7 separate regions of the Homo sapiens genome follow, and regions 2, 3, 4, 5, 6 and 7 are each linked to region 1. Evidence: fine-mapped expression QTL. A gene starts in region 1. Each other region holds a variant in brackets. All regions are shown on one strand. Distances are from middle to middle.

What was found.
Region 2: its variant is fine-mapped to the expression of PLOD1 in whole blood (TOPMed, PIP above 0.99).
Region 3: its variant is fine-mapped to the expression of PLOD1 in whole blood (TOPMed, PIP 0.99).
Region 4: its variant is fine-mapped to the expression of PLOD1 in whole blood (INTERVAL, PIP above 0.99).
Region 5: its variant is fine-mapped to the expression of PLOD1 in whole blood (TOPMed, PIP above 0.99).
Region 6: its variant is fine-mapped to the expression of PLOD1 in whole blood (TOPMed, PIP above 0.99). The same link has a PIP of 0.9 or more in T cells, blood mononuclear cells and monocytes.
Region 7: its variant is fine-mapped to the expression of PLOD1 in whole blood (INTERVAL, PIP above 0.99).

Annotation. Positions count from the first base shown.
Region 1 is chr1:11,932,236-11,936,299 of GRCh38, forward strand. It overlaps PLOD1 (procollagen-lysine,2-oxoglutarate 5-dioxygenase 1), which reads left to right and starts at 2,482. Exons shown (of 19, transcript NM_000302.4): 1 at 2,482-2,620. The coding sequence starts at 2,545. RefSeq lists enhancers at 1,265-2,190, 2,021-2,070, 2,191-3,114 and a silencer at 2,291-2,760.
Region 2 is chr1:11,953,732-11,957,795 of GRCh38, forward strand. PLOD1 (procollagen-lysine,2-oxoglutarate 5-dioxygenase 1) reads left to right here. Exons shown (of 19, transcript NM_000302.4): 6 at 1,099-1,162; 7 at 3,186-3,283. Among named protein-coding and RNA genes, the nearest start is that of PLOD1, 21 kb to the left of the region's middle. The variant T/C (reference allele first, on the strand shown) is at 1,699.
Region 3 is chr1:11,965,027-11,969,090 of GRCh38, forward strand. It overlaps PLOD1 (procollagen-lysine,2-oxoglutarate 5-dioxygenase 1), which reads left to right. Exons shown (of 19, transcript NM_000302.4): 14 at 454-567; 15 at 1,225-1,290; 16 at 1,961-2,065. Among named protein-coding and RNA genes, the nearest start is that of MFN2, 13 kb to the right of the region's middle. RefSeq lists enhancers at 1,391-1,891, 1,892-2,392. The variant G/A (reference allele first, on the strand shown) is at 2,225.
Region 4 is chr1:12,000,026-12,004,088 of GRCh38, forward strand. It overlaps MFN2 (mitofusin 2), which reads left to right. Exons shown (of 19, transcript NM_014874.4): 9 at 1,376-1,529; 10 at 1,744-1,811; 11 at 1,957-2,078; 12 at 3,967-4,063. Among named protein-coding and RNA genes, the nearest start is that of MIIP, 17 kb to the right of the region's middle. RefSeq lists an enhancer at 773-1,702. The variant T/G (reference allele first, on the strand shown) is at 2,425.
Region 5 is chr1:11,959,040-11,963,103 of GRCh38, forward strand. PLOD1 (procollagen-lysine,2-oxoglutarate 5-dioxygenase 1) reads left to right here. Exons shown (of 19, transcript NM_000302.4): 10 at 1,607-1,728. Among named protein-coding and RNA genes, the nearest start is that of MFN2, 19 kb to the right of the region's middle. The variant AAG/A (reference allele first, on the strand shown) is at 1,973.
Region 6 is chr1:11,984,191-11,988,254 of GRCh38, forward strand. All of the region lies in intron 2 of MFN2 (mitofusin 2), which reads left to right. Among named protein-coding and RNA genes, the nearest start is that of MFN2, 5.8 kb to the left of the region's middle. The variant G/A (reference allele first, on the strand shown) is at 1,842.
Region 7 is chr1:11,886,116-11,890,179 of GRCh38, forward strand. No RefSeq gene overlaps it. Among named protein-coding and RNA genes, the nearest start is that of RNU5E-1, 20 kb to the right of the region's middle. RefSeq lists an enhancer at 1-3,318. The variant C/T (reference allele first, on the strand shown) is at 1,732.

The DNA of each region.
Region 1 (4,064 bases):
ATCACGAGGTCAGGAGTTCAAGACCAGCCTGGCCAAGATGGTGAAACCTCATCTCTACTAAAAATACAAAAATGAGCCAGGCATGGTGGCAGGCACCTGTAATCCCAGCTACTCGGAAGGCTGAGGCAAAGAATTGCTTGAACCAGGGAGGCGGAGGTTGCAGTGAGCTGAGATTGTGCCACTGCACTCCAACCTGGGCTATACAGTGAGACTCCATCTCAAAAAAAAAAAAAAAGAAGGTATTTTTACTGAGTGGAACCATACTATATATTCTGCTTTTCCACTTAACATCATATGGGTAGTGTATTTCTCTGGCTGCAGCATCTGAATGCTATTTTGTTTTTATTTTTATTTTTTGGTTTGTTTGTTTTTTTTGAGGCAGGTTCTGACTCTCTTGCCCAGGCTGGAGTGCAGCGGTGTGATCATGGCTCACTGCAACCTCCACCTCCCGGGCTCAAGTGATCCTCCCCAGTCAGCCTCCTGAATAGCTGGGACTACAGGCACATGCCACCATGCCCAGCTAATTTTTGTTTTTTTAGTAAAGAAGGGGTTTCACCATGTTGCCCAGGCTGGTCTTGAATTCCTGGGCTCAAGCAATCTGGCTGTCTTGGCCTCCCAAAGTACTGGGATTACAGGCATGAACCACCGCACCCAGCTCATCTGAATGCTGTTGATTTATTAATATCTTTTCCCAGCACAGACGCATAGCCTGCTCTTTGTCGTCCATTGACATTCGTGACATTCCTTCTCTCCCACCCCTTTGCCCCCTGCAGGGAACCCCCTGCCAGCCTAGGGTTACACCTGCCACCCACTCCTCTGGAGCCTAATCAGCTGGGAGAAGGCTCCTGGGTCCCTGTCTAAGGTCTTTTTTTTCTTTTTTTTTTTTTTTGAGACAGAGTTTCGCTCTGTCGCCTAGGCTGGAGTGCAGTGGTTCAATCTTGGCTCACTGCAAACTCAGTCTCCTGGGTTCAAGTGATTCTACTGCCTCAGCCTCCTGAGTAGCTGGGATTACAGGCGCGCGCCACCACGCCTGGCTAATTTTTGTATTTTAGTAGAGACAGAGTTTCACCATGTTGGTCAAGCTGGTCTTGAACTCCTGACCTTGTGATCCGCTCGCCTCAGCCTCCCAAAGTGCTGGGATTACAGGTGTGAGCCACCGTGCCCGGCCTCTGTCTGAGGTTTCTTCCAAGGAAGGAAGGATTTTTGTTCAGAGGTGGCTGCCCCTGTCTGACATCTGGTCCAGGAGCCCTTACTCTAGAGACCGTTGAGTTGTTTGTTGGGCTTTGGGTATCTGTGAAGAGGCCCTAAAAACTTTCATCGATTCGTTTACTCATTTAACAATTAATCTCTCTAGGGTGTGGTGGCTCAGCCTGTAATCCCAGCACTTTGGGAGGCCAAGGCGGGTGGATCATCTGAGGGTGGGAGTTCAAGACCAGCCTGACCAACATGGAGAAACCCCACCTCTACTAAAAATACAAAATTAGCTGGGCATGGTGGCACATGCCTGTAATCCCAGCTACTCGGGAGGCTGAGGCAGGAGAATTGCTTGAACCCGGGAGGCGGAGGTTGCCGTGACCCCAGATCTCGCCGTTGCACTCCAGCCTGGGCAACAAGAGTGAAACTCTGTCTCAAAAAAAAGGTAGAAAAATTAGCCAGGGATGGTGGCTCAGGCCTGTGATCCCACCTACTTGGGAGGCTGAGATGGGAGGATCGCTTGAGCCCGGGAGGTCGAGGCTGCAGCAAGCGGTGATCACGCCACTGCACTCCAGCCTGGGCAACTGAAAGCAACCTTGTCTCAAAAAAATGAAAAAAAAAAAACAAAAAACAAAAAAACCTCAGAAGCAAGACTTTCCTTGGCTCAGAGGTTTGCCTCCCAGGGACACAAAGGGAGATCAAGTGATTGCCTTTTGGGGAGAGTGGAGACGGGCTTCCTGCATTTCCAGTGCCTGGGTGGGCCACGTAGGGGTGTCCGTGTCTCTGAACGCATCCGTGCCCACCCTCACCCCTTGGGTTTTGGGAAGGACTAATGAAATCATGAAAACTGACTTCCTTGGGGCTTGACCTGGGGCTGCTCTAAGTGCGCTACAGGTAACGCCATTAACCCGTGCAAGACCCAATGAACAGACGCTATCATAAGCCCCACTTTTCAGGCGAGCAAACAGGGGCTCGTGGCTATCGATGCCATGGAGCCTTGGCCCAGAACCTGGGGTCTAGAAATCGTGGCCTCTCTCTCCTCTCACCGCCCTCTTTCTGGTCGGAGTGAACCCCCCAGAGAAGGGAGGGAGACGGCAGGGCCTGACGGAAGCCCCGGGAGCTGCACAGAGAGGCGGAGGGAGCTGCCCTAATAAGGAGAGGCCCGGACTTGGGCATATCTGCAGAAAAACCCTTCCCCACTAGGCAGGCGCGGGGGAGGGCGTGGAGGGGCGGGGTGGTGCCGCCCCCGGGGCGGGCCCAGTGCGTGGCAGCGGGACCTGCGGCCCCGTCGCGAAGTTTCCAGCCCTGCGAGCGCCGCCGGGTCGGCCGATCGTCCCCCATACCTCGGCCATGCGGCCCCTGCTGCTACTGGCCCTGCTGGGCTGGCTGCTGCTGGCCGAAGCGAAGGGCGACGCCAAGCCGGAGGGTGAGGGAGCGAAGGCCGGGGGCGGGAGCGCGGATCCGGGCGGGAGGGCTGGTGTCGGGCTGCCTCCCTGGGAACGACCTGAATGGGAGGCCTGGGCTGGAGAGGGAGTCTGGGTTCCGGCTCCTTGTCCACTTAATCGCTGGTGACTTGAACAAATCACTTCCCCTCTTGGGGCTGCGGTTCCTGCTTCGGGAAGGAAAGGGTGACAGCTGAGTCCCATTCAGCACAGAAAGGCTCAAATAATAATAGTTTTCATAATAATAACCGACAATGGCTATTCTGCCCAGTGCTCACTATGGGCCAGGCATCAGTTAGGCATGATTGCTACCCTGGTAAGTGTTTCCTTCTATTATCCCCGTTTTCCAGCTGGGCAAACTGAGGCTCCAGAGTTCATTCACTTGCCCAAGATCATACAACTTGTGGGCCTTGGAACCAGGATTTACCCCACCCACCCAGGTGTCTGGTTCCAGAGCCAGGAGGCCTCATGACCATGGGAATGAGGGGTCTTGAGGGGGACAGGGGAGGAATGGGGGTAGAAGGTGTGGCTCACTTTGTGGATAAGTTTGTGCTTTCATCCATGTCCCCTGTGGTCTGCTTAGCCCCTGCCAGGGTGGTCTTCCTCTCTGCAGTTTATTTTTTTTATTTTACTTAATGTATTATTTATTTAGTTATTTATTTATTTTTGAGACAGAGTCTTGCTCTGTCGCCCAGGCTGGAACGCAGTATGCGATCTCGGCTTACTGCAACCTCTGCCTCCCAGGTAAAAGCAATTCTTTTTTTTTTTTTTGAGATGGAGTCTCGCTCTGTCGCCCAGGCTGGAATGCAGTGGCACAATCTCAGCTCACTGCAACCTCCACCTCCCAGGTTCAAGTGTTTCTCCTGCCTCGGCCTCCCAAGTAGCTGGGATTACAGGCACGTGCCACCATGCCTAGCTAATTTTTGTATTTTTAGTTGAGATGGGGTTTCACCATGCTGGCCAGGCTGGTCTTGAACTTCTGACCTCTTGATCCGCTGGCCTCAGCCTCCCAAAATGTTTGGATTACAGGCGTGAGCCATCGCGCCCGGCCGGTTCAAGCGACTCCTGTACCTCAGCCTCCCAGGTAGGTGGGATCACAGACATGTGCCACCATGCCCAGCTAATTTTTGTATTTTTGGTGGAGATGGGGTTTCACCATGTTGGCCAGGCTGGTCTTGAACTCTTGACCTCAGGTGATCAGCCCACCTTGGTCTCCCAAAGTGTTGGGATTACAGGCGTGAGCCACCACACCTGGCCCTCTCTGCAGTTTATACTTGAGGAAACTGAGGCCCAGACAGGTGAAGTGACTGTCCAGGGTGGTCCAGACAGAGGTGGTTGGTCCGAGGTCAGCTGGGCTCCAGTCTAGCGCTCTTTCTACTTCCTCAAGGCAGATTGGATTGCAGTGTGTGCCCCACTGTCCTGAGTGGG
Region 2 (4,064 bases), 21 kb after region 1:
CAGTGAGCCGAGATTGTGCCATTGCACTGCAGCCTGGGTGACAAGAGCCAGACTCCATCTCAAAAAAAAAAGCAATAATGATAATACTTTCTCACAGAGATGTTGTCAGGATTAAATTGATTAATATATGTAGAATAGTTTATTTATTTATTTGAGACAGGGTCTCACTGTCACCCAGGCTGATGCGCAGTGGCAGAAACATAGCTCACTGCAGCCTCAGCCTCCCGGACTCAAGCGATCCTCCCACCTCAGCCTCCTGAGTAGCTGGGACTATAGGCCTGCGTCACCATGTCTGGCTAATTTTAAGATTTTTTTATAGAGATGAAGTTTTGCTATGTTGCCCAAGCTGGTCTCAAACTCCTGGGCTCAAGTGATCCTTCTGCCTCAGCCTCCCAAAGTGCTGGAATGACAGGAGTGAGCCACCGCACCCGACTCGTGTAGAATATTTGGAGTAGCGGCCAGGTGCGGTGGCTCACACCTGTCATCCCAGCACTTTGGGAGGCGGGGGGCGGGGGCGGATCACCTGAGGTCAGGAGTTCGAGACCAGCCTGCTCAATGTGGTGAAATCCCATCTCTAGCAAAAAAAAAAAAAAAAAAAAAAAAAATTAGCTGGGTATGGTGGCACATGCCCGTAGTCCCAGCTACTCAGGAGTCTGAGGCAGGAGAATCGCTTGAACCCAGGAGGCGGAGGTTGCAGTGAGTCGAGGTCGTGCCATTGCACTCCAGCCTGGGTGACAAGAGCGAAACTCTTTCTCAAAAAAAAGAATATTTGGAGTAGCTATGTGCGTGTAGTGGAGTGCTTGGCAGGTGCTGGTTACTCTTAACGGCCGTCATTGTTGTAGGTGAGCCGGCTGCATTCTTAGATTCCTTCCAGTTCAGAGTCCCTGGTTTTCTGTGAGTAGAGCCACTAGACTGTAGACCCCAGGAGCTTGGCTGCTGGCCTTCTCTGGGCACCTAGCTGCCCTGATGTGACGTGGCAGAGTCGGTGTGGGGAATGAGGGCTGAACTTGGGGACAGATTCCCCACACTGGGTGAGATGTAGCCCCAGCCTCCCCCAGGGCCTGTCCCTGCTGCAGTCTGGTACCTTCTTTCCTGCAGGAGCAGATCAATATCACCCTGGACCACCGCTGCCGTATCTTCCAGAACCTGGATGGAGCCTTGGGTGAGCAGCCCCCACGGGGAGGGGTGGATCCTCAGAGGGGTGATAGGAAGAATTCCAGGCAGGGCCCGAGCCCAGGGAGGAGAAATGGGCTGCTTCTTTCTGGCCATTGTGCTGAGAGGTCACTGGCCTCATCCCCAGGTCCCCAGGGGCCACTTGGATATCCTGGCGCAGAGCCATGTCTCTCTTGGGGGCGGGGGACAAGTGAGCATTCAGCCTGGGAGGAGTTGGGGGATGCGCACAGCAGGTGCTGGACCCCCTGCCCTGCATACCAGGTCCTTACAGGTGGGCCCTCTTTCCCCACTTTCCCGGCCCTCCCACCTTCCAGGTGAAGGAGTCCTGGGCTAGGGGCAGGAACTCAGCTGGTGGGACAGGCAGCTTGGGAAGCAAAAGGCTACTTGACCCTTGATGCCGCAAACATCCCTGGGCCTGGCCTCATGTCTGTGGCTGGTGATGACATTGCTTTGCCGCAGGTCTTCCTGTCTTCCTGAGTGACCTCAGGCAAGTCACACCTCCTCCCCACAGGGGACTCAGTTTTC[T/C]TATCTTTACAAAAGGGAAGTGAACCGGATCCACTGATTGCTGATTTTGTGGATAAATGGGCCCTTTTGAGAATCTGATGAAAGCTACGGCTCTGCTCCCAGAGAAACGCAGAAAATGCCCTTTGCCTGTGGTTTCTGGGGGTTAAGAAGCACTGAGTTCAGATCCACGCAGGTCAGGAGCTATCTGTTTTCCTTTTTTTTTCTTCTTTTTTAAGATGGAGTCTTGCTCCATCGCCCAGGCTGGAATGCAGTGGCGAATTCTCGACTCACTGCAACCTCCGCCTCCCAGGTTCAAGTGATTCTCCTGCCTCAGCCTCCCAAGTAGCTGGGATTACAGGCGCACACCACCATGCCCGGCTAATTTTTGTATTTTTTTAGTAGAGATGGGGTTTCACCATGTTGGCCAGGCTGGTCTCGAACTCCTGACCTCAGGTGATCCACCTGCCTTGGCCTCCCAAAGTGCTGAGATTACAGACGTGAGCCATCGTGCCCAGCCCTATTTTAATTTTTAAAATAGAGACAGGGTCTCACTATGTTGCGCAGGCTTGTCTCAAACTCCTGGGCTCAAGTGATCCTCCCACCTTGGCCTCCCAAAGTGCTGGGATTACAGGTGTGCGCCAGCGTGCCCAGCTGAAATACCCATTTTCCTATGTGCAGACTAATAGGGTCAAACATGGGTATTGGGGGCCAGGCACTGTAATCCCAGCACTTTGGGAGGCCAAGGCGGGTGGATCACCAGAGGTCATGAGTTCAAGACCAGCCTGACCAACATGGTGAAACCCCGTCTCTACTAAAAATACAAAAATTAGCTGGGTGTGGTGGCATGTGCCTGTAATCCCAGCTACTCAGGAGGCTGAGGCAGGAAAATCACTTGAACCTGGGAGGCGGAGGTTGCAGTGAGCCGAGATCATGCCACTACACTCCACACTGGGCAATAGAATGAGACTCCATTTCTAAAAAACAAAAAACAAAAACACACACAAAAAACATGAGTATTGGAACCCTGCTGCAGGGGCTCCCTCCACTGGGACAAGATCTGTCCTGATCATGCCCAGGCCTCCCCTGCATGTGGCTCTGGCATTTTCTCAGTGCTGCTCTGCCTACTCAGAGAAGGCGCGTCCCAGACCCTTTCTCTTGGGGCTTCTCTGAGGTGCCTGGAGCTGGGATGTTCCAGGTCTTCGTTCTTCTCCCAGCCCCTGCTTCTGACTGTAAGTAACCACAACAAGTACAGGGGTTGCCGTGGATTCTGTGCTCATGATGGGCCAGGCTTGGTGCCCCACGCTTGTTCAACACAAATCCTCCCCCTCACCCCATGAAGAAGGGATTATTCCTATTTTATAGATGAGGAAACTGAGGCTTAGAGAGAAGTGACTTGCCCGAGGACATAATCTACTCACTGCACAGCTGGGATTTGAGCCCAGCTGGTTGGACCCTGAGCCTGACCTCTGGGTCTGATGCTGGGTGGGACTGTGCTTTCTGACCCCCAGATGAGGTCGTGCTCAAGTTTGAAATGGGCCATGTGAGAGCGAGGAACCTGGCCTATGACACCCTCCCGGTCCTGATCCATGGCAACGGGCCAACCAAGGTAGGGGGTCCCCAGCCCCTGGGGAGTGTGGGAGGGGGCCAGAGCCCTAATTTCATTCTCACTGTGACCCCACAGTGTCTCCCTGGGGCCAGGGCCACCTTCCTGGGGCCTGCTATGAACTCACTGCCTCTGTCCTCACATCTGAGCTCAGCGTGATGCCTTCTTTTCCTGCTGTGGTGGTCAGTGGTACTCTGTCTGTTCTTGCTGGTCACAGGACACGTAGGAGGCTGCCATCCCCTTCCAGGCCTAGGCTGGGCTACCAGAGCCATCTGCACTGTCACCCCAGGGCAGAGTCACTTATTCACTCAGTAAACCTTTATTTCATGTTTGCACCAGACAGTAAGACATAGTCATAAGCAGGACGGATGTCCTGCATTCATGGTGACAGAAGGGACTGGGTGCAGATGCGGCCAGGGACAGAATGGACCTCACTGGTCCCTGGGGAACTGGCTCATAGCTCATAGCATATTTGAGTGTGGTCCTTCACCGCTGGAATGAGGGAGAGGAAGGAGGATGTGATGTGTTTAAAATGCAAATTTGCTGATTTCACCCAGGATCTGTTCAGATGGAATCTCTGAGCGGGGTGGGACCCAGGAATCTGCATTTTACAAGCTCTCGGGAGAAGCACTAGAGTGCCAAGCCCTCCCCTGCCCTCTCTCAGAGCGGCTTGGTGATCTCCTGGGGATGGAGCATTATCTCCAAGACCCTCTTAGGGAGTGGGAGGGGGCTGGATGGTGCTGACCCACTGGGGGCCCAGGGAGATGTGAGTCAGGGCTATGGC
Region 3 (4,064 bases), 33 kb after region 1:
ATTTTATTTACATTTTTGGAATAGCCCAAAGAAAACGGAACTTTCCACCTAAAGGTACTCCAAGTGATGTGCCCGAGAGACACCTCACCCTGTCTCTGCGCCCCACCCCATATATTTTTGTGACTTTTTTTTTTTTTTTAAACATGCAGCAAGATGAAGTTTTCCCCTGTGACCAACATTTCAGGACCAGAACACGCTCCTTTTCTTTTACGCATTTTTTCTTTCATTCTGTGTTCAGTCCTCTGGGAAGACTTCCCTGATCACATTCTTAGTGTCAGGCCTGGGCTGGGCCCTGGGGACATAGCGGTGACTGCACTTGGTCTCTGATATTGGGAACTTCAGTTCGGCGGGTGGAGGAGGCTGCACTGTTGCCCGTCTGGGAGCGTGCAGGGGAGGGGTGAGGGCAGGGGAGGGGTGGGGGAGCGCCTCTTCCACCGGGCCTGTCCTCCCCAGGATGTGTTCATGTTCCTGACCAACCGGCACACCCTTGGCCATCTGCTCTCCCTAGACAGCTACCGCACCACCCACCTGCACAACGACCTCTGGGAGGTGTTCAGCAACCCCGAGGTGAGGCCAGGGTGGGCACATAGGGGCTGGGAGCAAAGGGGCCCAGTGATCCTGCAGTCGGAGGGACTTCCCTCTCAGAGTCTTACAACAGCCAGGACCCCTGTAGGCCACCTGCCACCCTCCCTTCACCCCAGGAGGCTATAGGGCAGGATTTGGGTAGGGAGAGAAGGGTGTCCAGAGAGGCAACACCATCTATTGGAGGAGGGACCAGGACTCAAGAGGCCTGGGTTTGTGGCCTAGATCTGCCATCATCTGGGACTTAGTTGAGCCTTCCAGCTTTGGGGACCTTAGTTATCTTAGCTCCAAAATGGGTATACTGTCCCAGCCTGTCTTACCCATGAGGGTGTTGTGATGATCAGAAGGGGAGACAGTTGTAACTGTTTCTAGACGTTGGGAGCTCACAGCTGATGGGTGTAAGCACATGCCTGCACACAGACATATACACACAAGCACACACATGTACATACATGTGCAAACACCACCTCCTATGGGCACACCTGTGCACCCAGACAACACACACGCACCCAGTGGGTGCAGGTGAACACCTGCCTCTGTCAAGCACGTACACCTTCACTCCCACTTTGAGGGGTCTGCTCTGAGCATCCCTGGCAGTTGAGCCAATGGTGAGGACCCTAGCCTGCTTCCCACTTCCCACAGGACTGGAAGGAGAAGTACATCCACCAGAACTACACCAAAGCCCTGGCAGGGAAGCTGGTGGAGACGGTAAGGGCCATGGACACCCTCTTGGACCAGCCTTGCCTGCTGCAGGGGGCAGGGCACAGAAGGGAAACTGCTTGCCCTGGGGAGTGGGGGACAGCAGGATGGGAGTTGGGGGTGGAGGGATGGGAGTTGGGGGGCGGCAGGATGGGAGTTGGGGGTGGCGGGATGGGAATGGGGGGGCGGCGGGATGGGAGTGGGGGGTGGTGGGATGGGGGTGGGGGGAGGCAGGATGGCCCCTCTACCTGTTGGCACTTTCCTGCTGGAGGCTGTGGGAGTCTGCAGGGCCTCTCTACCTGGCCCAGGCAGGAAGGAGGAAAACATCCTGGATGTGATGGCCACTGTGGCCCACCATGCCTGGACCACTTCGGGGAGTGGCTGCTTCTCTCCACTCACTAATGTCTGCTTCCCCCGAGCCTGGGGCCTCTGCCCCCTCCCTCCCTCCATGCCCATGTTTCTGTCTGACCTTGGCGCTGGTAGCTCTGTGACCTCGGCTGGGAAAGTCTGTCTCTGGGCTCTGCCTCCTCCTCCCCACTCAGTCTCTCCAGGATTGACAAGGCCCTGCTCCCCGGGGACACTGGGAGGGCTCCCTGGCTTGGGTGTGTGGCCCTGAAGAGGAAGGAGGATTCTGTGGTGCCACTGTGGACCCCCTTGACTGAGTCCCTGCCCTCCCCAGCCCTGCCCGGATGTCTATTGGTTCCCCATCTTCACGGAGGTGGCCTGTGATGAGCTGGTGGAGGAGATGGAGCACTTTGGCCAGTGGTCTCTGGGCAACAACAAGGTGGGACCCTGATGCCTGGGCTGGGGCCGCAGGGAGGCTGCCTCTCCATCAGTGCCGCTCACTGTCTGGGGTCTTCTGGCAAGCTGGCCTGGCCACCCTTTCTGGGACTCTTGACATAGGGGTGCTGGCATGGGTATCTGCAGGCAGGTAGGAGTAGAG[G/A]GATTGAGAAACCTGAGATGGAGTTTGGTCCCTGAGCTGCTGTTGCCACCGTGTGGCTTTGAGTTGCCTTGACCGTAAGCTACTAGGTTTTCAGTTCCTGGTTTGCTATTGGAATGGCTTAGCTTGGTTCCCTAGACTTCCCCCAGGTGGAGCTGGGGAGGAAAGGGCCAAGGTGGGATGAGGGGCATTAGGAAGGGCTGTCGGGTCCAAGTTCATCAGACAGCAGGAGCAGGTGGCCTGCTGAGGGTGCTAGGCCCTGTGTTCTCTCCGTGAGAATCCCAACACCTGTTCCTGTCCTGGAAAGTTCAGGTACCATTTTTTTTTTTCTTTTCATGTGTGTGTGTGTGTATATATATATATATATAAAAAGAAATATATATAGATTTTATTTATATATATATATATATATTTTTTTTAAATAATAGAGACGGGGTCTGGCTGTGTTGCCCAGGCTGGTTGTGAACCAGGCACAATTTCATTTTATTTATTTTAATTAATTAATTAATTAATTAATTTAGAGACCGAGTCTCACTCTGTCGCCCAGGCTGGAGTACAGTGGCGCAATCTTGGCTCATTGCAACCTCTGCCTCCCAGGTTCAAGAGATTCTCATGCCTCAGCTTGCCGAGTAGCTGGGATTATAGACGTGTGCCACCACGCCCAGCTAATCTTTGTATTCTTTATTTATTTAATTGTGTGTGTGTAAATTTTTTTTTTTTTTTTAAGGCAGTGTCTCGTTCTGTCACCTAGGCTGGAGTGCAGTGGCATGATCTCAGCTCACTGCAACCTTCCTTTCCCAAGTTCAAGCAGTTTTCTTGCCTCAGCCTCTCCAGTAGCTGGGACTACAGGCGTGTGCCACCATCCCTGGCTAATTTTTGTATTTTTAGTAGACACTGGGTTTCACCATGTTGGCCAGGCTGGTCTCAAACTCCTGGCCTCAGGTAAGCTACCCACCTCGGCCTCCCAAATTGCTGGGATTACAGGCGTGAGCCACCGTGTCTGGCCTAAGGCACCTTTTTATTTTATTTATTTTTTTTATTTTAATGATCCCAGAACATTTATTTCCATAGGATTTTGATAAAAGAGCACAATCTTGAATAAAAATACACCACTGTACTTAAAGGCAACATTACCTACTAAGCAAACTCTGTCCTTAGCCCTTTCACAGAAGAGAAACTGCAGAAAGGAATTTTTCGTCTCCTGACAGTTTTACAACATTCATATCTCCTATGTACTTCAAGCCCCAACCCACCTCTGATTTTCTTTTTTCTTTTTTTTTTTTTTGAATGGAGTCTCGCTGTGTCGCCCAGGCTGGAGTGCAGTGGCGCCATCTCAGCTCACTGCAACCTCCGCCTCCCAGGTTCAAGCAGTTCTCTTGCCTCAGCCTCCCGAGTAGCTGGGATTACAGGCGCCTGCCACCATGCCCGACTAATTTTTGTATATTTAGTAGAGATGGGTTTCACCATTTTGGTCAGGCTGGTCTCGAACTCCTGACCTCATGTTGTGATCCACCTGCCTCAGCCTCCCAAAGTGGTGGGATTACAGGCATGAGCCACCGCACCGGGCACCCCACCTCTCATTTTCTACGTCCTTTTTTTTTTTTTTTTTGGTGAAGTGGAGCCTCGCTCTGTCGCCCAGGCTGGGGTGCAGTGGTGCAGTGGTGCAGTGGTGCGATCTCGGCTCACTGAAACCTCTGCCTCCTGAGTTCAAGTGATTCTCTTGCCTCAGCTTCACAAGTAGCTGGGATTACAGGTGCTGGCCACCATGCCTAATTTTTTTTTTTTTTTTTTTTTTGAGACGGAGTTTTGCTCGTCACCCAGGTGGAGTGCAATGGCACAATCT
Region 4 (4,063 bases), 68 kb after region 1:
GGTGGAGCTTGCAGTGAGCTGAGATTGTGCCACTGTACTCCAGCCTGGGCAAGAGAGTGAGATTCCGTCTCACAAAAAATAATTAAACAAATAAAGGGTAATAAGATTGATAATATGGCAATATGGGATGATAAAACATGCAGTTGCAGTCAGTAGGCCAGAGTCCAAATTATTTATTTTTTTCGAGATGGAGTTTTGCTCTTGTCACCCAGGCTGGAGTGCAGTGGCACAATCTCGGCTCACTGCAACCTCCACCTCCAGGGTTCAAGCAATTCTGCCTCAGCCTCCCGAGTAGCTGGGATTACAGGCACCCGCCACCACACCTGGCTAATTTTTGTATTTTTAATAGAGATGGGGTTTCACCATGTTGGCCAGGCTGGTCTTGAACTCCTGACCTTAAGTGATCCGCCCGCCTCGGCCTCCCAAAGTGCTGGGATTACGGGCGTGAGCCACTGTGCCCGCTTGTGACTGACACTAGGCAGTGTGACTTTGTTAGCTTCCTTGACCCTTCTGGTAATCCAATTTCCTGGCCAGTGTGATGGTGTGATAAATAGACTTGTTGAGAGGATGAAATCTGTCAAAAACACCTGACACGTGGTAGGTGTCTACAAGAAGCTATTGTCACATTTTATCGGTAGAACCCCAGGATGTCAGAGCCAGGAGGGATGTTCTAGTGATGCCCACTCCTTTTATAAACAATGCCCCAGGAGGACACAGCTTGTCAGAGTATAGGTCCCAGATTTAGGTTTCTTGACCTCAGGGTTCCTTTCCTGCCAGGGCACCAAAATGAGGCACTATATAGGCTTAACAAGAGGCAGTCTAGGGCACGTTTAAGCATTTCTGCTTGTATATGCATAAAATATCTTTGGCACGCTCACTGCCAAGTAACCCCCACACGTTGGTCTGGGAAACTTGGTGGTGAGAGAGCAGAATAGTGGGGGACATTACACTGTGTATGTGTTTGTGCCTTTGGCTGTTGAGCCATGTGAATATATTGCCTATTCTTTTTTTTCCCTCACTCTGTCGCCCAGGCTGGAGTGCAGTGGTGCTATCTTGGCTCACTGCAACCTCCGCCTCCAGGTTCAAGTGATTCTCCTGCCTCAGCCTCCTGAGTAGCTGGGATTACAGGCGCCTGCCACCATGCCTGGCTAATTTTTTTGTATTTTTAGTAGAGACAGGGTTTCACCATGGTGGCCAGGCTGGTCTTGAACTCCCGACCTCAAGTGATCCACCTGCCTTGGCTTCCCAAAGTGCTGGGATTACAGGCGTCAGCCACCATGCCCAGCCTCTTATGACCTATTCTTTTAATAAAAGAGGCAGGTGGGGGCTGTGGGGCCACCTACACTCACTCTGGACACATTTGTTTGGGCTCCAGGTGCGGCGGCAGCACATGGAGCGTTGTACCAGCTTCCTGGTGGATGAGCTGGGCGTGGTGGATCGATCCCAGGCCGGGGACCGCATCTTCTTTGTGTCTGCTAAGGAGGTGCTCAACGCCAGGATTCAGAAAGCCCAGGGCATGCCTGAAGGAGGTAATGATGAGAACAGATGTCCTCCTTTTCTCTGATGTTTGAGACATTTTGTCTCGTGCTGAGGAGTCTGTCAGTAGAAAATCCTTCTGAGAAGGGGATGCTGAGAAGAGCAGAGAGGCTCTTGCTCTTTAGCCAGTGGCTTGGTTTCTGGGGATTTCATCGTTTTCCTCTGCTGCCAAGTTGTTTCTGGACTAATGCAGTACAATCCTCCTAGGGGGCGCTCTCGCAGAAGGCTTTCAAGTGAGGATGTTTGAGTTTCAGAATTTTGAGAGGAGATTTGAGGTGAGTCCTCTGATTCTGGTATCTGGCGATTCTGTGCCTCCCCAGCTCCCATTGGCTGTGTCCCTGGCAGTGAAAACCAGAGTCTGGCCCTTGGTTGTAGGCCCCTGGTGGCCCCCACCTCCCTCCGTGCCTCTGTGTGTTCCAGGAGTGCATCTCCCAGTCTGCAGTGAAGACCAAGTTTGAGCAGCACACGGTCCGGGCCAAGCAGATTGCAGAGGCGGTTCGACTCATCATGGACTCCCTGCACATGGCGGCTCGGGAGCAGCAGTAAGAGTCCAAGACTGCAGATAGGTGGAGAGAGCTGCCGAGACAAGGGTGCTCCACCCCTGCCTTGGGCAGTTAGGACACGCCTTGATGGCAGGGCTGAGTCTCTGGGCTCCCATCCAGAGCCCTTTCCCTGGCCACCAGACCATGTTAGAACCACATAGACAGCCTGGTGAGGAGGGCGGCTGGGTGCTTCATCACCCCACCTGGTCTGTGCAGCACGATTCCCTGTGTTGGAGGTCTTGGCCCATGCCCTGCTGAGCTCTGCAGCCATTCTCAGAGCCTGAACACATTTTTCAAAACAACATTCCAGCCAGGAGCAGTGACTCACACCTGTGATCTCAACACT[T/G]TGGGAGACCAAGGCAGGAGGACTGCTTGAGGCCAGGAGTCCAGCCCAGATAACATAGTGAGATCCCATCTCTACAAGAATTTTAAAAATCAGCTGGGTGTGGTGGCACACACCTGTAGTTCCAGCTACTTGGGAGGCTGAGGCAGGAGGATCACTGGAGCCCAGGAGTTCAGGGTTCCAGTGAGCTGTGATCGCACCACTGCACTCCAGCCTGGGCAACAGAGTGAGACCCTGTCACTAAAGAATAATATGAAAACACCTTGCTTCTATCACACAGAATTGACTTTCTCAGTTGTTTATGTTAAGTTAAAATTTTAAAAAGTTCAGTTCCCTTTTGATTCTTTTGCACTTGTCCCAGTGTCACTCTGCCCTGAGGCACCATAATCATGAATTTACATTGTTCTATCACCCAAACAGTACTTTTTACATAAATGCTGAGGAATATGTCAGGTTTTTACATGCTTCAGATGTACAGATGTGGCATCACACTGTCTGTCACTGTACCTGGCTTTGCTTTCTCAACATCGTTTTTCCCTCTATCCTTGTTAGTATGTGTAGTTTGTTTATGAATCGGAACTGCTGTAGTATATTCCATTGTGAATATGCCTCATTTTCCTATGGATGGAATTTTAGATTTTTTTTTTGCTATTGGAAACCCTACTGCAGTGGACATTTGTTCATGTGTCCCCTTGTGCACCTTTTTAAGAGTCTTCCTGGGGTGAGTTCCTAGGGGTGTGGCAATTCTGTTTTAGGGTACACGCGTTTCCAGTTTTAGTCAGTTTTCTTGATGCTCTTCAGAACAGCCGTACCCATTCATTGCATGACCAGTACTGTCCATAGGCCTTCCATTTCATCAGCCCTCACCAGAACTTCAGACCTGGTCATTTTTGCCAGGCCTTGGTAGAAAATAGTGCCTTTAAAAATTTCATTTACAACTGGGCATGGTGGCTCACGCCTGTAATCCCAACACTTTGGGAGGCCAAGGCGGATGGATCACCTGAGGTCAGGAGTTCAAGACCAGCCTGACCAACACGGAGAAACCCTGTCTCTGCTAAAAATACAAAATTAGCTGGGTGTGGTGGCGCATGCCTGTAATCCCAGCTACTCGGGAGGCTGAAGCAGGAGAATCGCTTGAACCCAGGAAGTGGAGGTTGCAGTGAGTGGAGATCGTGCCATTGCACTCCAGCCTGGGCAACAAGAGTGAAACTCCATCTCAAAAAAAAAAAAAAAATCATTTCTGTGATTACTAGTGAGGTTGAGCTTTTTTCCCTATATTAATTGGCAGAATTTGTTTAAACCCCCTTAAAGCGCCCTCCCTGTTTTGTGCCCACCACCTGACCCACATCGAAGACTGAAGAGTGCATGGTTGGCTGCAGGGTCCTCTTCTTACCTGGGAAGGGGAAGGCCATGCCCCTGGGTGCGTGTGTGCAGCCCTGCCAGGCAAGATAGCGGGCAGGGCGGCGTGGGATTTCTGGCATCCCCTCTTGCTCCTCTGCTTAGTCAGACAGGAACATGGATTTCTCACCAGTACTCTGCTTTCAGGGTTTACTGCGAGGAAATGCGTGAAGAGCGGCAAGACCGACTGAAATTTATTGACAAACAGCTGGAGCTCTTGGCTCAAGACTATAAGCTGCGAATT
Region 5 (4,064 bases), 27 kb after region 1:
ACTAAAAATACAAAATTAAGCTGGGTGTGGTGGCAGATGCCTGTAATCCCAGCTACTCAGGAGGCTGAGGCAGGAGAATCGCTTGAACCTGGGAGGCAGAGGTTGCAGTGAGCCGAGATTGCGCCATTGCACTCCAGCCTGGACAACAAGAGCAAAACTCCGTCTCAAAAAAAATAAAAATAAATAAATAAATAAATAAAATAAAATAGGGATAATAATTGTGCAATCACACAGAATTGCTGCAAGGGCTAAGCAAGCTGACATGCGAAGTTCGTAAAAGGTGCCTGGTGCACAGGACGCATCTAGTTGCTTCTAACTGTTGTCATCTTCACTTCCATCCCTGTCACTGTTAATCCTTCCTACCTTCCTAATTGTACCTGGTGGCAGTCAAATTGGTTTTCTTTTCTTTTTTTTTTTTTTTGAGACAGAGTCTCGCTGTGTCACCCAGGCTGGAGTGCAGTGGCACGATCTCGGCTCACTGCAACCTCTGCCTCTTGGGTTCAAGCGATTCTCCTGCCTCAGCCTCCCAAGTAACTGAGACTACAGGCATGCGCCATCACAACTGGCTAATTTTTTGTATTTTTTTTTTTTTTTTTGAGACGGAGTCTTGCTCTGTTGCCCAGGCTGGAGTGCAATGGCGTGATCTCAGCTCAGTGCAACCTCTGCCTCCCAGGTTCAAGCCATTCTCCTGCCTCAGCCTCCCGAGTAGCTGGGATTACAGGCGCCTGCCACCGTGCCTGGCTAATTTTTTGTATTTTAGTAGAGATAGGGTTTCACTATGTTGGCCAGGATGGTCTCGATCTCCTGACCTCGTGATCTGCCTGCCTCCGCCTGCCAAAGTGCTGCGATTACAGCCATGAGCCACCGCACCCAGCTGGATGGTTGTTTTTCCTTTTTTTTTTTTTTTTGAGATGGAGTCTTGCTGTGTCTCCCAGGCTAGAGTGCAATGGTGCGATCTTGGCTCACTGCAACCTCCGCCTCCCAAGTTCAAGCAGTTCTCTGCCTCTGCAACCTCCGCCTCCCGGGTTCAAGCAGTTCTCTGCCTCAGCCTCCTCCCGAGTACCTGGAATTACAAGTGCCTGCCACCATGCCCGGCTAATTTTTGTATTTTTAGTAGAGACGTGGTTTCACCATCTTGGCCAGGCTAGTCTTGAACTCCTGACCTGGTGATCTACCCGCCTCGGCCTCCCAAAGTGCTGCGAATACAGGCGTGAGCCACTGTGCCTGGCCTGGACTGTTGTTTTTCAAAGCGAAGTTGAGGATCACCTGGCACATTTTGTAACAAAGTGGATCTCTGGGCCACACCCAGGAATCAACAATGTCTCTGGATGTGGGATCCTGAGCGTGGTGGCGGAGCTCTATCCTGATGACAGAGGCTCTTAGGAGGCCTGACCTGGTCAGAGGAGAATGGGCAAAGGATGGCCAGGGAAGGGTGTTCCTGGCACAGGGCTGGCATGGGCAAAGGTCTGGAGACAGGAAAGCAGATGGCCGGGGTGCCAGAGATGAAGGGGCACAGCCTGGCAGTGACAGGAGGTGCTACAGTCCCTGGGTGGAAGCTGTGTCCTCCTCCTCACCCCCGCATCCCCTTCCCCATCCCCAACCCCAGGAGCAGCACCACAAGGCTCAGGTGGAAGAGTTCCTGGCACAGCATGGCAGCGAGTACCAGTCTGTGAAGCTGGTGGGCCCTGAGGTGCGGATGGCGAATGCAGATGCCAGGAACATGGGCGCGTGAGTTGTGGGCCACAGTACTCTCCACTGACAGTGGGGGCAGGGGAGCTGTGGCTGTGGTAAGGAGCAGCAGGCTGAGTGACAGGAGTTCAGAAGGCTGTGTGTGCTCTAGCAAGTTCCTGCCCCTTTCTGGGCCTTGGAGTTTCCATCTGTCAAAAGGGGAAATAGCCTCTGTCCTGCCAACCCCCGGGGCTCCTGGGCAGGGCTGAGCCATGTTATTTGGGTTCAGGAAGCAAATCAGAGA[AAG/A]AGGAAGGACTGGGGGCAAAAGTAGACAAAGGCTGACTATTAGGGAGCCAACCTTGAATGTTTTACTTTATTATATATAAAAAAAAAAGGCCGAGAGCAGTGGCTCATGCCTGTAATCCCTGCACTTTGAGAGGCCAAAGTTGAAGGATTGCTTGAGGCCAGGAGTTCAAGAGCAGCCTGGGCAACATAGCGAGACCCTATCTCTTCAAAAATTAAAAAAAAATAGCCAAGTGTGGTGGCTTGAACCTGGGGTCCCAGCTACTGAAGAAGCTGAGGCAGGAGGACCTCTTGAGCCCGGGAAGTCGAGGTTGCATGAGCTATGATTGCACCACTGTGTTCCAGCCTGGGAAACAGAGCGAGACCTTGTCTCATAAAGCAAAACAAAAACAAAGAAAGAAGTAATTTGTGTTGCTTGTAGAAGAGTCAGACAGTCCAGATCAAAGGTTGGCAAACTTCCTGCTAAGGATTAGATCATAAATCTTTGCAAATTGGCTCTGCCGGCTCTGTGACAACCCTCAGCTCTGCCCTAGTAGCACAGAGGCTGCATTCCAGCAAAATTTCATTTATGGACACTGAAATTTGACTTTCATGTCATTTATTTTTTTTTCTTTTTGAGACTTGGTGTCACTCTTGTCATCCAGGCTGGAGTGCAGTGGCAGGATCATAGCTTACTGTAGCCTCAAACCCCTGGGTTCAAGTGATCCTCCTGCCTCAGCCCCCCAAGAAGCTGGGACTACAGGCATGTGCCATCACATCCAGTTAATTTTTAAATATTTATTTATTTATTTATTTAGAGACTGAGTCTCACTCCGTCACTCAGGCTGGAGCGCAGTGGCGCGATCTCGGCTCACTGCAACCTCCCCGTCCCAGGTTCAAGCCATTCTCTTGCCTCAGCCTCTCAAGTAGATGGGATTACAGGTGCTTGCCACCACACCTGGCTAATTTTTGTATTTTTAGTAGAGACGAGGTTTCACCATGTTTTCCAGGCCTGTCTCAAGCTCCCGAACTCAAGTGATCCGCCCGCCTTGGCCTCCCTAAGTGCTGGGATTACAGGTGTGAGCCACTGCGCCTGGTTAATTTATTTATTTTTATTTTTTGTAGAGACAGGATCTTGCTATGTTGCCCAGGCTGGTCTCAAACTCCTGGCTTGAAGTTATCCTCCCGTCTCAGCCTCCCAGAGTGCTGGGATTACAGGCATGAGCCACTGCACCTGGTGATGACCTTCACATAATTTTTACATCTTCTTTTGATTTTTGTTTTCTTTTTTTTTTTTTTTTTTTTGAGATGGAGTCTCGCTCTGTCACCCAGGCTGGAGTGCAATGGTGCAATATTGGCTCACTGCAAGCTCTGCCTCCCACGTTCACGCCATTCTCCTGTCTTAGCCTCCCGAGTAGCTGTGACTACAGGTGCCCACCACCATGCCCGGCTAATTTTTTGTATTTTTAGTAGAGACGGGGTTTCACCGTGTTAGCCAGGATGGTCTCGATCTCCTGACCTCGTGATCCATCCACCTCAGCCTCCCAAAGTGCTGGGATTACAGGCGTGAGCCACCACGCCCTGCCGATTTGTTTTTTTCTTGAAACAACTTAAAAACATAAAATCAGCCAAGTGCAGTGGCTGTAATCCCAGCACTTTGGGAGGCCAAGGATTGCTTGAGCTGGGGAAGTTGAGGCTGCAGTGAGCTATGATTGTGCATTCCAGCTTGGCTGACACAGTGAGACCCCCATCTCTAAAAAAGGAAAAAAGGCCGGGTGCAGTGGCTCGCATCTGTAATCCCAGCACTTTGGGAGGCCGAGGCGGGCAGATCACCTGAAGTCAGGAGTTCGAGACCAGCCTGGCCAACATGGTAAAACCCTGTCTCTACTAAAAATACAAAAATTAGCCTGGCATGGTGGTGCACGCCTCTAATCCCAGCTACTTGGGAGGCAGAGGCAGGAGAATCGCTTGAACCCGGGAGGTGGAGGTTGCAGTGAGCTGAGATTGTGCCATTGCATTCCAGCCTGGGCAACAGAGTGAGACTCGTTCTCAAAAAAATAAAATAAAATAAAAATAAAAAAAAGAAAAACATAAAGCTGTTCTTAGCCCATGAG
Region 6 (4,064 bases), 52 kb after region 1:
GCTTCTGATGGCAGGGAACTTGCTTCCTGCAGCAAGTCACTTCTGGAGTGGGGTATCGCTGATCCTTCCCCAGCTGACCTGTTTATTTGATCTCCGTGATAGCGGGTAAGGGAGTGGTGTGTGTGGTGTGAGTTGGCGGAGTTGCCTCTGCCCTCCCTGAAGGCTGGGTGTTCATGGAGAGAGTCTTGTGATCTTGCTGGTAGAGTTTGTTGTTATTGTTTTATAACATGTAAAGCTGCCTTTAGCTCTTACTGTAGTGAAGCATGTTGCTTGCGTCATCAACTTTAGTCTTCTCACAGTTTAGATGGTATTGTGGTATTAGGATATTGGTTTTCATCCACGGATCCAGGCTCATAACTCCTATCCACAGCCCTTGTTATGGTTTTTTGATATAATGTTAGATGTGTTAGGCCTCAGGGGCAGGCCTCTGACCTTCTGCTCTCCTTCCACCCTAATCTTTCCCCACCTGATTGTGGGCCTTAAAACCCTCCCCTGAGAGGGGTGGACCCTGTATCCTGGGGGAAGGAATGCTGATGTCATGAAGCTTCCATAAAAATCCAAGAGGACAGAGTTCAGGGAGCTTGTGGATAGCTGAACACACGGAGGTTCCTAGAGAGAGGCCTGCTCAGGGAGGGCACAGAAACTACACGCCTCTTCCCCCATACCTCGCCCTAAGCGTCTCCTTATCTGTATCCTTTGCGATATCCCTCATAATAACCTGGTAAACGTAAGTAAGTGTTTCCCTGGGCTAGGTAGGCTGCTCCATCAAATTAATTGAACTCAAAGAGGGGGTCATGGGAACCCCAGCCTGAAGCCAGTCGGTGAGAAATTCTGGAGGCCCAGACTTGCAACTGGTATGTTTGAGGGGTGGTGGTGGAGAGGCGGGGCAGTCCTGGGGACTGAGCCCTCAACCTGTGGGATCTGACACTCTCTCCAGGTAGACAGCATGGGAACTGAATGAGAGGATACCCAGCTGCTGTCCGCTGGTTGGTGTGTGGGGAAGAAACCCCCTCACATTTGGTCACAGAAGTCTCTTGTGTTGATGATTATGGTGTGAGAGTAGAGAAAAAAGATAATTTGAGACAGTTTCTCTCTCCAGTAGGTGTCTTGTTTGTTGTACACATGAAGAAACCAAGGTTCTGTGATGAAATAACTTGCTTAAGTTTAAGCAGCCCAGAAATAATGTAGTCACAATTTGAACCCAGCTCTGCCTGATTACAAAACCTGTCATAGGTAGTGCTATATCATGCCCCATCCTTGATCCCTTTTTTTTTTTTTTTTTTTTTTTTTTTAAAGAGAGAGACTTCGCTCTGTCACCCAGGCTGGAGTACAGTGGCGAGATCTTGGCTCACTGCAAATTCTACCTCCCAGGTTCAAGTGATTCTCCTGCCTTGGCCTCTGGAGTAGCTGGGACTACAGGCATGCGCCACCACACCCAGCTAATTTTTTGTATTTTTCATAGAGACGGGGTTTCACCATGTTGGCTAGACTGGTCTTGAACTCCTGACCTCAGGTGAGCTGCCTGCCTCGGCCTCCCAAAGTGCTGGGATTACAGGCATGAGCCACCGTGCCTGACCCCTGATCCCTTTTCTATTCCTTTTGGATGGCTTTCCTCTTGTGCCTGCCACATCCCCTCTTTCTCGAACAGTCTGATCTGCCAGGCCATGGCAAGCCTCATTTCAGCGCACTCTCCTTTGCTGCTTTGGAAGAGTGAGAGTAGCATTTTCTTTGCAGTTTCCTTTCTCAGAGCTGTACTGTCTTTAAGCCCTGGACATATGGCTTCCATGCTGAGAAAACATCTCTCATAGCTGTGGCGTCATGCTGAGGAGGAATGTAGAAAC[G/A]GAAGTGGGGTCACTTCCTTCCCTTGTCTCCAGAGGAATCATTAACATTGCACAAGAACTTGTTGGTTTGGGCACACATGTGGGTCCCTATCCCGCTTTGGGTCGGTCTGTCTTCTGCCCACTCTTTGGGATGGTTAGTTACTAAAAGTCCGTTTTGGCATTTGGTCTTCATGTACCTCTTCCGGGTGTTCTTTCTGCTTTTCAGGACCTTGTGCAACATACTTTGGCCCCATTTGGAAGTTTTTCACGTGTGCTTGCTGGGGAGCAACACCTCATTTCCAATCTAGAGAGAGTGAGCTTACTGCTGGGTGGAGAACTGAGCAGTAAGATTAGGGTGGCTGGGGAGGCAGTGACAGACCCAGGCACAGTCAGCTGTGCACACACCCCCTCATCCAGGAGGGCCTTTGCCCTTTGACTTCCTGGGATTGGTGGGCTCTGCTCAAGAAGTAGCTTTCGCCGTGGTGGGAACTCTGAGGGACCTGGCAGGGGTCCACTTTTGGGGTCGGAATTCCCAGTCTTACCCTGGGCACTCCTTCTGGTGTGTACGCCTCTTTTTGATCTTTTTTTTTTTTTTTTTGAGATGGAGTCTTGCTCTATTGCTCAGGCTGGAGTGCAATGGCGCGATCTTAGCTCACTGCAACTTCCAGCTCCCAGGTTCAAGCAATTCTCGTGCCTCAGCCTCCCGAGTAGCTGGGATTACAGGTGCCTGCCACCATGCCTGGCTAATTTTTGTATTTTTAGCAGAGAAGGGGTTTCACCATGTTGGCCAGGCTGGTCTCAAGTGATCCACCCGCCTGGGCCTCCCAAAGTGCAGGGATTATAGGTGTGAGCCACCATGCCCAGCCTCTTTTGACCTTTGACCAAAGACCTCTAGGACTTTGGAGTCAAGTCTCATGACCTCTAAAATGTTGTTATATGAAAAGATAAGCTACAAAGATATGTAGGATTGAGTGAGAGCAAGAGAGACAGTCACACAAAAATAGACTGTGATAATATGGCTGGGTACGGTGGCTCACGCCTGTATTCCCAGCACTTCGGGAGGCCGAAGCAGATGGATCACTTGAGGTCAGGAGTTTGAGACCAGCCTGGCCAACATGGTGAAGCCCTGTCTACGAAAAATAAAAAAATTAGCTGGGTGTGGTGGTACATGCCCGTACTCCAAGCTACTCAGGAGGCTGAGTGAGGCAGGAGGATCGCTTGAACCTGGGAGGTGGAGGTTGTAGTGAGCTGAGATTGCACCACTGCACCCAGCCTGGGTGACAAAAGTGAGACTCTGTCTCAAAAAAAAAAAAAAAATTATAATAAACAAAATGTTGGGCCGGGCGTGGTGGCTCATGCCTGTAATCCCAGCACTTTCGGAGGACAAGGTGGGTGGATCATTTGAGGTCAGGAGTTCAAGACCTACCTGGCCAACATGGTGAAACCCCACCTCTACTGAAAATACAAAAATTAGCCGGGCATGGTGGCGAGTGCCTGTAGTCCCAGTTGCTTGGGAGGCTGAGGCAGGAGAATAGCTTGAACTCGGGAGGTGGTGGTTGCAGTGAGCCGAGATCATGCCACAGCACTCCAGCCTGAGCGATAGAGCAAGACTCTGTCTCAGAAAAAAAAAAAAAAAATGTTGGCTGGGCATGGTGGCTCACGCCTTTAATCCCAGCACTTTAATCCCAACACTTTGGGAATCCAAAGTGAGAGGATCATTGGAGCCCAAGAGTTTGGGAGCAGCCTGGGCAACATAAGAAGACCCTGTCTCTACAAAAAATTTTAAAAAAATTAGTGGGGCGTGGTGGTGCATGCCTGTGGTCTCATGTACTCAGGAGGCTGAGGTGGGAGGATTGCTTGGACCCAAGAGGTTGAGGCTGCAGTGAGCTGTGATTGCGCCACTGCACTCCAGCCCAGGTAACAGCGAGATCTTGTCTCAAAATAAAAAATAAATAAGTAAATAAAATGTTAACATTGCTTATCACAAAATGATGGGGTTATGGGTTTTTTTCCCCTTCAGTTTCCAAATTTTCTGTAGCACACCTGTGCTATACTAAAATAGACCAATAGTTTTTGTGTGTGTGTGTGTGTGTGTGTGTTTTTCTTTGTTGAGACTTGGTCTGGCTCTGTCACCCAGGCTGGAGTACAGTGGTGCGATCTCGGCTCACTGCAACCTCCGCCTCCCAGGTTCAAGCAATTCTCTGCCTCAGCCTCCCAAGTAGCTGGGATTATAGGCGGCCACCA
Region 7 (4,064 bases), 46 kb before region 1:
AACAGATGGCAATAAGCCTGAGCCTAATGTCCTGGCCTGGGCAGGCCTCTCTAGGGAAGGGACATTTCCATTGTCTCACATTACATTGAGTAAGTGGGACTCAGCTGGGCGAGGAGGAGAGGGTGTGAACTTGGTGTGTTGGAAAACAGGAGAGATGGTCACGGGTCTAGGGCTTGGAGTGAGAGCTGGGCAGGGCTGGAATTTGTGGGGCCTTCTGGACGGTGATAAATTCAGACCCCATCCCAGGGCCATGAGCAGTCGCTAAGGGAATTTAAACAGGAGTGTGGGGACAGGATCAAATTTGCCACCCTCCCTCTCCAGGGAAAACACCTTGGGCTAAGAGGAAAGGCAAATGATGAAGCCTTGGACTCCAGGCCGGGGCCCTGAGAGGAGGGAGAGGGGTCGCCTCCATCTCCGAGCAGCGGGACTAAGAGCCCTTTGGCGCCTCACCCCAGGAAGTCGGCTCTGTAAGGACTTCCCCAGCTTCCTCTGAGGCCAGAGGAGGAGACAAAGAAAGAAAGTCTTGGGCTGGGCACAGTGGCTCACACCTGTAATCCCAGTACTTTGGGAGGCCAAGGCAGGCAGATCACTTGGGGTCAGGAGTTCGAGACCAGTCTGGCCAACATGGCGAAACCCCATCTCTACTAAAAAATCCAAAAAATTAGTGGGGTGTGGTGGCGCATGCCTATAATACCAACTACTCAGGAGGCTGAGGCAGAGAATCGCTTGAACCTGGGAGATGGGGGTTACAGTGAGCTGAGATCGTGCCACTGCACTCCAGCCTGGGAGACACAGCAAGACTCTGCCTAAAAAAAAAGAAAAAAAGAAAGTCTTGAGCTTCTCTGTCCCTGGGGGACAGCAGCCTAGGCCCATCTGGGCTGGGGATACCAGGCCCTTTCCTGGTTCATATTTCCCCCCATCCCGCCCTCAGCCTCCGGGAACACCAGCCTCCAAGCTGGCTGCTGCTTCTGCATCCCACCCCATGACGCACATCCAGAATGGAGCCAAAAGCATAAGAAGCCAAAAGGACAGTCAAAAAAGGAAGGCAGCCTGGAAGGGCAGCAGCACCGGGAACATGAGGCTCTGTCCGCTCGCCCTTGCGCTGGCTCAGTGCAGACGGGAAGCGGTTGGAGCCAGTTCCAGCATTCTGCAGGTGGGGCTGGCGGGGGGAGAGGTGCCCATGCCCACCGGCCATTGGGCGGTCCCATGCGCCCTGCAGGCTGACCTCATTGTCCAGAATTGTGAGCGTGCTTCCTGGGGTCACATTCCGTGCTGAAGAGCCCCTCTTCAAGGCCTCGGTTGGCGCCAATGTCTTTTTAGGAACCAAGCCTCTAATTTTAGTGTCCCAGCCTTGACACCTTCTCAAAATAGCTCCCTGTTTTCTCTTGTGTCCCTGGCCCTTCCTTGGAGAAGGTGAACCCCCTGCATCCCCGTGATCTGAGTTGGTGAGCACAGGTCCAAGGCCTTGTATGGGTTTGGGTGTAGGGATCCACGCCCCTGCCATGTGTTTTGTGTGGCAGGACCCAGAGAACTCACCTCTGGGAGGGCAGCTCACAGCACCCACCATGGCAGGGGTCCTGCGAGAGCCCACTCCCAACTCCTCCCTGGGGGTCTGCCATGCTCAGGCGTGGCACAAACGAAAGTGACTCAAATCCAGGTCCCCAACCCCTGGAAATCAAGGCTTCATAGCCGCAGCTCCACCTGTAGGAATCGTGGGTGAGCTGACACCTG[C/T]GCCCCGGGAGCTCCTCTCTTCCTTTGGCAGGTTCCATGCTGTTCAGGTACCAATCCTAACAATGGCCTTTCCTGAACATTTCAATGGTGCCAAGTGCATCTCTTGCATAATTTTGTTTAATCCTCTCAGCCATCCTATGCAGTAGGTGCTATAATTGTCCCCAAGGTCATGGAGCTGCCAAGCGATGGAACCGGAATTTGGTGGGTTTTTTGTTTTTGTTTGTTTGTTTTTTGAGATGGGGTCTTGCTCTGTCACCCAGGATGCAGTACAGTGGCACGATCTCTGCTCACTGCAACCTCCGCCTCCCGGGTTCAAGAGATTGATTCTCCTGCCTCAGCCTCCCAAGTAGCTGGGATTACAGGCATGCACCAACACACCTGGCTAATTTTTATATTTTCAGTAGAGATGGAGTTTCACCGCGTTGGCCAGGTTGGTCTCAAACTCCTGACCTCAGGTGATCCATCCGCCTCGGCCTACCAAAGTACTGGGATTACAGGTGTGAGCCACCGTGCCCAGCCTAGAACTGGAAGTCGAACACAGGAAATCGGGCTCCCAGCCCTCGGCCTCATGCTACTCATGGTGCTGCCACATAAACATTCTCCTTGCACCAGCCCTTTCTCCACTGCCTCTGTCACAGTCCCTTCCAGAGTGCTCTGCTCAGATTCTTCTAGGCATCCTAAGCGAGTAGAGCAGAGAGGTTGTGCCGCTTGCCTGAAGTCACACAGCAAACTAGGGGCAGATGAAGACACACAACTCCAGAGGGCTGAGATCCAGGAAGCATTCCTGGAAGGAGGCTAAAGCTTAGCCAAGAGGTGAGCAAAGACTGTGGTCCCAGGCAACAGCCAGGCAGTGTGTCGGGACCTGGCAGGGCTCATCTAGCAGTCTTTTCCCCAACAGATTCGTGTTCTCAGCGGCAGGAAAAGCCCTCTAAAGGTGCCACCAGCTGGCCGAGTGGCAGGTATCCAGGAAGCTTGATTCGACAGCTCCCAGGGACACTGGCCACTAGGACCCATATTTTTCTGGGAAAGAGACACACTGGAAAGGAGAAAAGCCAGGGTGGGTCCTTCCTGGGCCTCCTCCTGCTGCAGTCAGAGCCCAAACCCCACACCCAGGGGCTCCCTGGAGGGACTGTGAGTGGCCAGAGCTCCCTTCAGGGCCCGAGGTCTGGCTCCTCCCTCAGGTTCATGCCCTGCAACCTGAGGGCCTGTCCCATTGATCACGATGGGGTGGGGAGGGGGAAGACAGAGACCGGCTGGTGCAGGTGATGGTGGGGAGACCAGGGCACTGGGCCCCATGGGGCTGGCTCACTCCACTCAGCCAGGGAAGAACACATTAGGGGCTTGGGAAACTCCTTCAAATCCCTAAATTGTCTAGGCTCATCCAAGCAGTTTTCGACTATCAGGACAGGAAAATGCAGTTTTTGTCTAAGTGAGTCACAGCCACTCTTCTGAAAGTGCCAGGTGGGTGGGTACACATGCAGGGCCAGAGGGCGCACCAAGAAGAAGAGAGGGGTCAAGACTCAGCCAGAAGCAGGTGCCCAGCCTTGGAATGACCGGAGACAGTCATCATAACACTGGGCTTCCCACTTAAATTATGCCGAGGGCCGGGCACAGCGGTTCACACCTGTAATCCCAGCACTTTGGGAGGCTGAAGTGGGCAGATCACTTGAGGTCAGGAGTCCAAGACCAGCCTGGCCAACATGGTGAAACCCTATCTCTACTAAAAAAAAAAAAAACGAAAATTAGCCGGGTATGGTGGCACACGACTGTAATCCCAGCTACACGGAAGGCTGAGGCATGAGAATCGCTTGAACCCAGGGGACGGAGGTTGCAATGAGCCGAGATCATGTCATTGCACTCCAGCCTGGGTGACAGAGCTAGACTCTGTCTCAAAGAAAAATAAATAAATAAAGAAAGAAAGAAAGAAAGAAAGAAAGCTGGGGTTGCCAACCCAAACACCTACAGGGGCCGGGTGGTTGGTGTAATGAAATAATGAATGAAGCCAGCCAGGTGACAAATTGTGGGGAAAAGAAAGAGAGATCATATTGTTAGTGTGTCTATGCAGAGACAGGAAGACATAAGAAACTCCATTTTGATCTGTACTAAGAAAAATTGTTCTGCTTTGAGATGCTGTTAATCTGTAACTCTTGTCCCAACCCTATGCTCACAAAAACATGTGCTGTATGGACTCAAGGTTTAAGGGATTTAGGGCTGTGCAGGATGTGTTTTGTTAGAAATGTTTTTGTAGGCAGTATGCTTAGTAAAAGTCATCGCCATTCTCCATTCTCGATTAACCAGAGATACAATGCACTGCGGAAGGCCGCAGGGACCCC